Linked DNA regions of Homo sapiens. The protein of the gene in region 1 interacts with the protein of each later gene in a pairwise test. Each region holds a gene or a part of one and is shown on either strand. Other genes may lie near its edges.

Region 1 (3,500 bases):
ACACATAAACTGATTATAAAAAGTTAAAGTGATCTCTCAATGTTCTCCTTTGTTTTTCATTGTGTTTAGTGCGATTATTATAAACCTTAAATAACAAGTGGCCCAAACAAAGCACTATTAGTGATGCTGGAACTGCTCCCCAAGAAGCAGGGAAAGTTATGACATCACAAGAAAAAGCTGAATTGCTTGATATGTACTGTAGATTGAGGTCTGCAGCTGTGGTTGTCCACCACTCCAGACAGATGATTCTCCTTGTAAACAGATGATGTAAACTTACAGTATCAACAAATACAGTATTGTAAATGTATTTTCTCTTCCTATAATTTTCTTAATAACATTCTCTTTCCTGTAGTTTATTTATCATAAGAATACAGCACATAATACATATGTAAAATACGTGATAATCCACAGTTTACATTATTGGCAAGGCTTCCAGTCAACAGTAGGCTTATTTGTAAGTTTTCTTGGAGTCGAAAGTTATATGTGGATTTTCCAGTGCTCGGGGAACTGGCGCCCCAATCCCCGTGTTGTTCAAGGCTCAACTGTATGCTTGGGAGTTCAAGTACAGTATTGGGTAACACAGAAAGGGGGGGTAAGAGGGAAAAAGGCATTTTTATGATCTTCAGGTAAAGACAGCAAGAGAATTAGCCACTACAGACATAAAAGAGTTGGAAGCCATGAGAATACAGGAAAACAATCAAAACCATGGGAGTAGGTAAGGACCCACAAGAGAGTAGGCAGAACACAGAGAGAGACCATGAGGTTTCTGTAGGACACGTCTGCCAAACTCAAACAGTAATTTATAAGAAAGTCTTTATATCTTGGCTCTCCTAAGCTAATGAAGAGGAGAACTTGGAGGAAGGCACTTCAACTGAACACCATGACAAGTTGGACATAGTATCATTACCTGGACACAGTATCATTACCTGGTTGTCAAGCAGGGGCTGTAGCATGGCACTTGCTGAGCCTCCAGCCTTGAAGGAGTCTCTCTGGTAAGACCCTACTGGATCAAAGCTGTATACAGCCCCCTTTCCTTAAAGAAGAAAACAGTATTCATAAGGATGGTATCCAATCACAATCCCAAATCATCGCAAAAATAAATCAGGTCAAAACGTGACACAAAACGGACTATCACCTTGGCTAAAACTTCAGGGAACAGTTGGAACACAGCCACTGTTGCACTGGTGACAGCTGCAGCACACACACTGTTGCACATGTGACAGCCAGAACCCAGTCACCATTGCACAGGTGCCACCCAGCAGACAGCCCCAATCCCCGTGTTGGTGTGTTGTTCAAGGGTAAACTGTAGGCTTGGGAGTTAAAATACAATATTGAGTAACACAGAAAGGGTGGGTAAGAGGGAGAAAGGCATTTTTATGATCTTCAGGTAAAGATGACAAGAGAATTAACCACTGCAGATGTAAAACAGTTGGAAGCCATGAGAATACACAAAAATAATCCAAGCCATGGTAGTAGGTAAGGACCCGTAAGAGAGTAGGGAGAACACAGAGAGAGATGGTGAGGTTTCTGTAGGACACATCAGCCAAACTCAAACAGTCATTTGTAAGAAAGTCTTTATTTCTTGGCTCTCCTAAGCTAACGAAGAGGAGAACTTGAAGGAAAGCACGACTTATGTATATAGACAGGTCCAAGGGACACATCCGCAAGACACAGTAAAACGAAGAGAATTCTGTAACCTGTAAAATACGATACTGCTTTTGTTTAAAAGAATAAGAAAACTATTTGTACAAGCACAAAAAAGTCTGGAAAGATAAGTAACTGTGGCTGGTCATCTTTGAGCTCTGAATTAGAGGCAAGAAAAGAAGGGAATTAATTCATGTGCTTCTATCTTATTTGAGTTTGTTACAAAGAACACAGGTGATTCTACAATCGTTAAAAAGGCCTGTTAAAAACAACCGTGTTCTGGGTATGAGAAATCACGAGTCATTTACAAGGTATGATTTTTTAAAAACATAACTGATTTAGAAAACACATTATATACCAGAACTCAGTACCCTGGGAGATGTGATATAGGGACAATCTCCTTACTAACCATGTACAACTGCCACTGTTAGCTTTGTATGTTTTCTACTATAGAACTGCGTAAACTTGGCCAGGCGCGGTGGCTCACGCCTGTAATCCCAGCACTCTGGGAGGCTGAGGTGGGCCGATCACGAGGTCAGGAGTTCGAGATCAGCCTGGCCAACACAGTGAAACCCCATCTCTACTAAAAATACAAAAATTAGCTGAGCATGGTGGCACGTGCCTCTATTCCCAACTACTTGGGAGGCTGAGGCAGGAGAATCGCTTGAACCCAGGAGGCGGAGGTTGTGGTGAGCCGAGATCATGCCACTGCACTCCAGCCTGGGCAACAGAGCGAGACTTGGTCTCAAAAAAAGAAAAAGGATTGTGTAAACTGAATTCTCTGGTGGAGAAGGCACCATCTGAGGTCACCTAAGAAACTGGGAAGTATTTTTGCTGGAAGCAAGCTTGGGACAAGACATGAGATCACAGCAGGCAATCCACTAACCTCAATATACAAAAAAAGAAAGAGATGTAAGGTGTAAAGGCAGAAAAATGATTGTATCTCTCATGAGGATGACAGGCCACAAGTAAACTGAGGCCCAAAAGCTTTACCCAAGGATGGAACCAATCTCAGAAAACCACACACAACAAATTTAAAAAAATAAACCAAAGAAAGGGTGGGCTATGTCCAAGAACACAGCTTTAAAGACCCCCTAGAAGAAGCAAGAGAGACACTAGTAAAATCAGTATAAAACAGCAAAAATCAATAAATAAAAACAAAAATAAATGTAGAATGGCATGAATCTTGATTACAAAGTGCTTTTCCTCATCAAAGTAAAATCCAAAAAGCACAATCATTTCAATGTAAAAAATAAAATCAGACAAGTCTTAAAAGAAATACAGCTAAGCTTTGGATGGGAGAAGTTTTTCTAACAAGGCAAGAAACTGAATGTCATAAAGAAATGATTGACAGATTAGACTGTATGAAACACAGCAATTTCTGTGTAGCAAAAGGCACCACCCAAAAGAGACAAATAACACTCTTGGGAGTATCTATAATATCACAGACATTTGACACAGTCGAATGTAGTTCTTGAAAATCAGTAAGAAGAAAACTAACCTGCAAATAAGGAAATGGGCAACAGTTAATATATGAATCAGTCTCCAAAGAGGAAATTTATAAAGTCAATAAACATATGAAAACATGCCCAAGAATATATATAAATGAAAATAATAAACTGTTCAATAGGCAAAAAGATGTTTCAAAATGTGTTAATTCTAATACTGGGAAGGTTATATAAAATCGGGTACTCAGGGTACTGGCGTATCCTTCAGAAAGAGTATACTCAACAAAATACAAAAAAAAATTTATCTGACCCAATACTTCAACTACTCGAAGTTTATTCTAGCAAGACAAGCATAATTGGGGAAGTACACAAAAATGTATGTACAAGGATGTTCATCATAGTGTTTAT
Region 2 (3,500 bases), on another chromosome or scaffold:
CCAAAACAATGAGCTTGCCTGCTCCCAGCCCTGGGGTTCTAACTGTTTTTCATGTTTTGTTTTTTAAAGAAGTCTAAAAGAGATGTTAAAAGGCTATGTAAACTAACAAAAATACCAGTTCTTTGGCTGTTTGAAAAATTGGGAAACAAATATAAGTATTGCTTAATAAATGTAGTTAAGTTGGAAGGCACATTTTTAACAAACGATGAGGTCTTTTGTGGGTGGGTAGAGATACAGTCTCACTATGCTGCCCAGGCTGGTTTGGAACTCCTGGTCTCAAGCAATACTCCTGCCTCAGCCTCCCAAAGTGCTGGGATCATAGGTGACAGCCACCATGCCTGGCTATGATGTAGTTTTGTTTCAGACAGGTTGCCCTTCTTTATTGGTCAAAATACATGGGCTCTTGCTTCATCTCTAGCCCTAAATTACTAAGACACTAATGTTTTTTGTGTCTCAGCTTCTCCTTCAGGATAGAAAAAGACACTATTGGCCAGGTGCTGCGGCTCACGCTTGTAATCCCAGCACTTTGAGACACCGAGGCGTGCAGATCACCTGAGATCAAGACCAGTCTGGCCAACACAGTGAAACCCCGGCACTACTAAAAATACAAAAAATTAGCCCAGTGTGGTGGCGGGTGCCTGTAATCCCAGCTACTAGGGAGGCTGAGGCAGGAGAATCGCTTGAACCCCAGGGGCAGGGGTTGCAGTGAGCCAAGATCGTGCCATTGCACTCCAGCCTGGGCAACAAGGAATGAAACTCCATTTAAAAAAAAAAAAAAAAGGCAATATTATGCTTCCAAGATGTCACATACTTGTCTAGAAGGCAATGTTGATTCCCTCAAAGGAAGGGTGCTAGGGGTGTACCAATCTTTCTTCTTGTGATGGAATTCAGTTTTCTCACTCAGGCCTCCCACTGGGATGTGCAGAAACTCTCACAAGAGGTGACTTGAGTTTTCTTTTCATGTGTGTCTGTTCTCAAAGCTCCTTGAGGACAGGACAACATTTAAAAATTCCAGTATGCTCCATGGTACTTTGCATGATACAGATACACAGCAAATATCTGTTGATTATGTCTTTGCAAGTGTTTTTGTTTTTTGTTTTGTTTTCTTTGGTATTTATATGTTCTTCAACTCACCTAAGGTCAAAATGATGTCTTCCATTAACACCATAAATTTATATAATATTAAAAATTTTCCAATATATTTTTTATTTATTCTCTCCCATTTCATTTCTTTTTTGCTGGAGTTGGATTGGCAGGGGAGACAGAACTAGGGGGATGTTACCCAGATGAACCACTTGTGACCCAGAGAGGAGGGAGGCAAGCTGGAAGCCTCCCAGTGAGGCAAGCAGAGGCTGGACACAATCCTGAGCCAACGGACTCTCTGTTAGGTGCTTGCTCCATTTTTCCCCTGTAGGTACCCATCTCCCTGCAGCAGCGAGCTGCTGATTCTGATTGCATCCCTGCACCTGGTAGCTTCTGGAACCACAGTGAGACATTACCTCATGGTTAGCAAATCGGATATCCCGAGAAAATATGGTAGCCACCCAGTCACACCCTAGCTTGACGTCAATGTTCTGGGCCAGTTTCTCTAGGGTGGGTAGGTGGCTGGCTTGGAAGTGGTAAGCCAGGGTCACATGTAGCTGCTTCTTATGAGGTTCCACATGCACTTCTGGAAAAAGGAAGAAAAAGGTCAGTAATTAAAAGGTGGTGATGATAGCAATGGTGAAGACTTAAGGAAAGGCATAGAAAGGTACCCTGAGAAATTCTGCTTCCCACATAACAAAGAAGACAAAAGACGTTTCTCTCCTTCACAGCAGTAGAATAAGGGGGTAAGGGGATGGCAAGAGATTCCGAATCAAGCCACTGTTCAAGAGATAGCCACCATACGGCTTTCCTCTAGGAGCTGCGGGTCAGCTGAGGGCAGTCCTTTTAGTTAAGTCCTTCTCACAACATTCCAGTTGGTGGTCACCAGCCCCACCTTTCAGAAGAGGGCACTATGACCTACAGTGATGAAATAATTTGTGTAGAAATACAAAGCATGTTTTATAGCTGCGTGACTCCCAAAGCTCTATTCCCTTCATTTTGGAATCACGTGTCTTAGCTTCTGGGTGAGATTGATGGAGAAATGAGGGGAAAAGATGGATATTTTCAAAGTTTAATGCAGGGTTTCTCTCAACAGCATTTTGGGTTGAATAATTATTTTTTGGGGGGGGTGGCTGTCCTGTGCATGATGGGGTGTTTCGCAGCATCCCTGGCCTCTACCCACAAGACGTCAGCAGCACTCTCCAAGCTGTAACAATTGAAAATGACCTCAGACATTGCCAAATGTACCCTGGGAGACAAAATCACCCTTAGTTGAGACATACTGGTTTAAAGTATACAGACTGTTATTCTAAGATATCCCAAGAGACAAAACAAAACAACCCTACCTATAGGAGGGAATGGCTTTTTTTTCTCTCTCTGGTACTTTTTTTTTTTTTTGAGACAGGGTCTTTCTCTGTTGCCCAGGCTAGAGTTAAGTGGCATGATCATAGCTCACCACAGCCTCCACCTCCTGGGCTCAAGTGATGCTCCCACCTCAGCTTCCTGAGTAGCTGGGACTACAGGTGTGAACCACCATGCCTGGCCTCTTTTGTATTTACAATGAGGGAGAATCATCTACTGTACAAACTAGAATAATGAAGAAGTTGCAACTAGAAGAAATTAGGGAATTTGAGAATTTAAGGAACTTGGTCAAGTCACACAGAGAATTAGTGGCCCAAGATAGAACTAGAAATTGAGCATTTCGGTTTTAAGTACTTTTTCTTTTATACTGCATTGCCTTTCTTTGGTGTAAGCCCCATGAAACAAGGTTTTTGTCTCTCGCTTACACTGTATCCTTACTCAGCATATCATGCAGGTTTTCAGTACTTGTTAAATGAATAAATGCACATGAATGAATCTCCCTTGACCACTTCAAATGGAGGAAGACACTAAATCTACTTGATGATATCTGGTCCTGCCAACAACTGGAGAATACCAAGTTCCAGGGCAAAGACATGGTGGCCGGCTTCCCATGCTGGGTAATAAGGAGCGGGACCAGCTAAGCTGCGCAGGGTCATCCAGTTCTCCACATCCCCACCAGGGGGCCACACAACAGCAGAGAAACGAAGCCGGCCAAGTTCTTCATGACAGCAGGATCTTGGAGAGGAATTGGCTCCACCCGCGTCCCACAGGGAAAGCTGGGGCTTCGACTGCTGCTCACTCAGTATGCACTCCAAGAATCTGTGCGGCCCTGGCTGAGGCTTGCTTTTCTCATTTGTGAAGGATTTGGGTTTTGCGGCTTTGACATTAGTTTTGGTCCTTGTGGGGATTTAGTGGTTCTGACAATAACTACTGTGGGATGAGAGAAAGCCATTTCCTTGAGATTGAGGGATAAGAGCAGGAAATAATTTGCCTCTCAGTTATGCTCTTTCTCTGAAATATTAAGCTCCTATGAAATGTCAGGCTTCACTGAAGTC

Evidence for each region. The genes of interacting proteins can lie anywhere in the genome.
Region 2: the proteins of PSMB1 (region 1) and UBASH3B interact in binary tests that used the Homo sapiens proteins (3 or more experiments, as listed by UniProt).

The regions. Positions count from the first base shown.
Region 1 is NC_000006.12:170,536,308-170,539,807, forward strand, and holds part of PSMB1 (proteasome subunit beta type-1), read right to left. Parts: intron 1,034-3,500; coding exon 927-1,033; intron 1-926. UniProt on the Homo sapiens protein: Non-catalytic component of the 20S core proteasome complex involved in the proteolytic degradation of most intracellular proteins. This complex plays numerous essential roles within the cell by associating with different regulatory particles.
Region 2 is NC_000011.10:122,781,222-122,784,721, reverse strand, and holds part of UBASH3B (ubiquitin-associated and SH3 domain-containing protein B), read right to left. Parts: intron 1,670-3,500; coding exon 1,500-1,669; intron 1-1,499. UniProt on the Homo sapiens protein: Interferes with CBL-mediated down-regulation and degradation of receptor-type tyrosine kinases. Promotes accumulation of activated target receptors, such as T-cell receptors and EGFR, on the cell surface.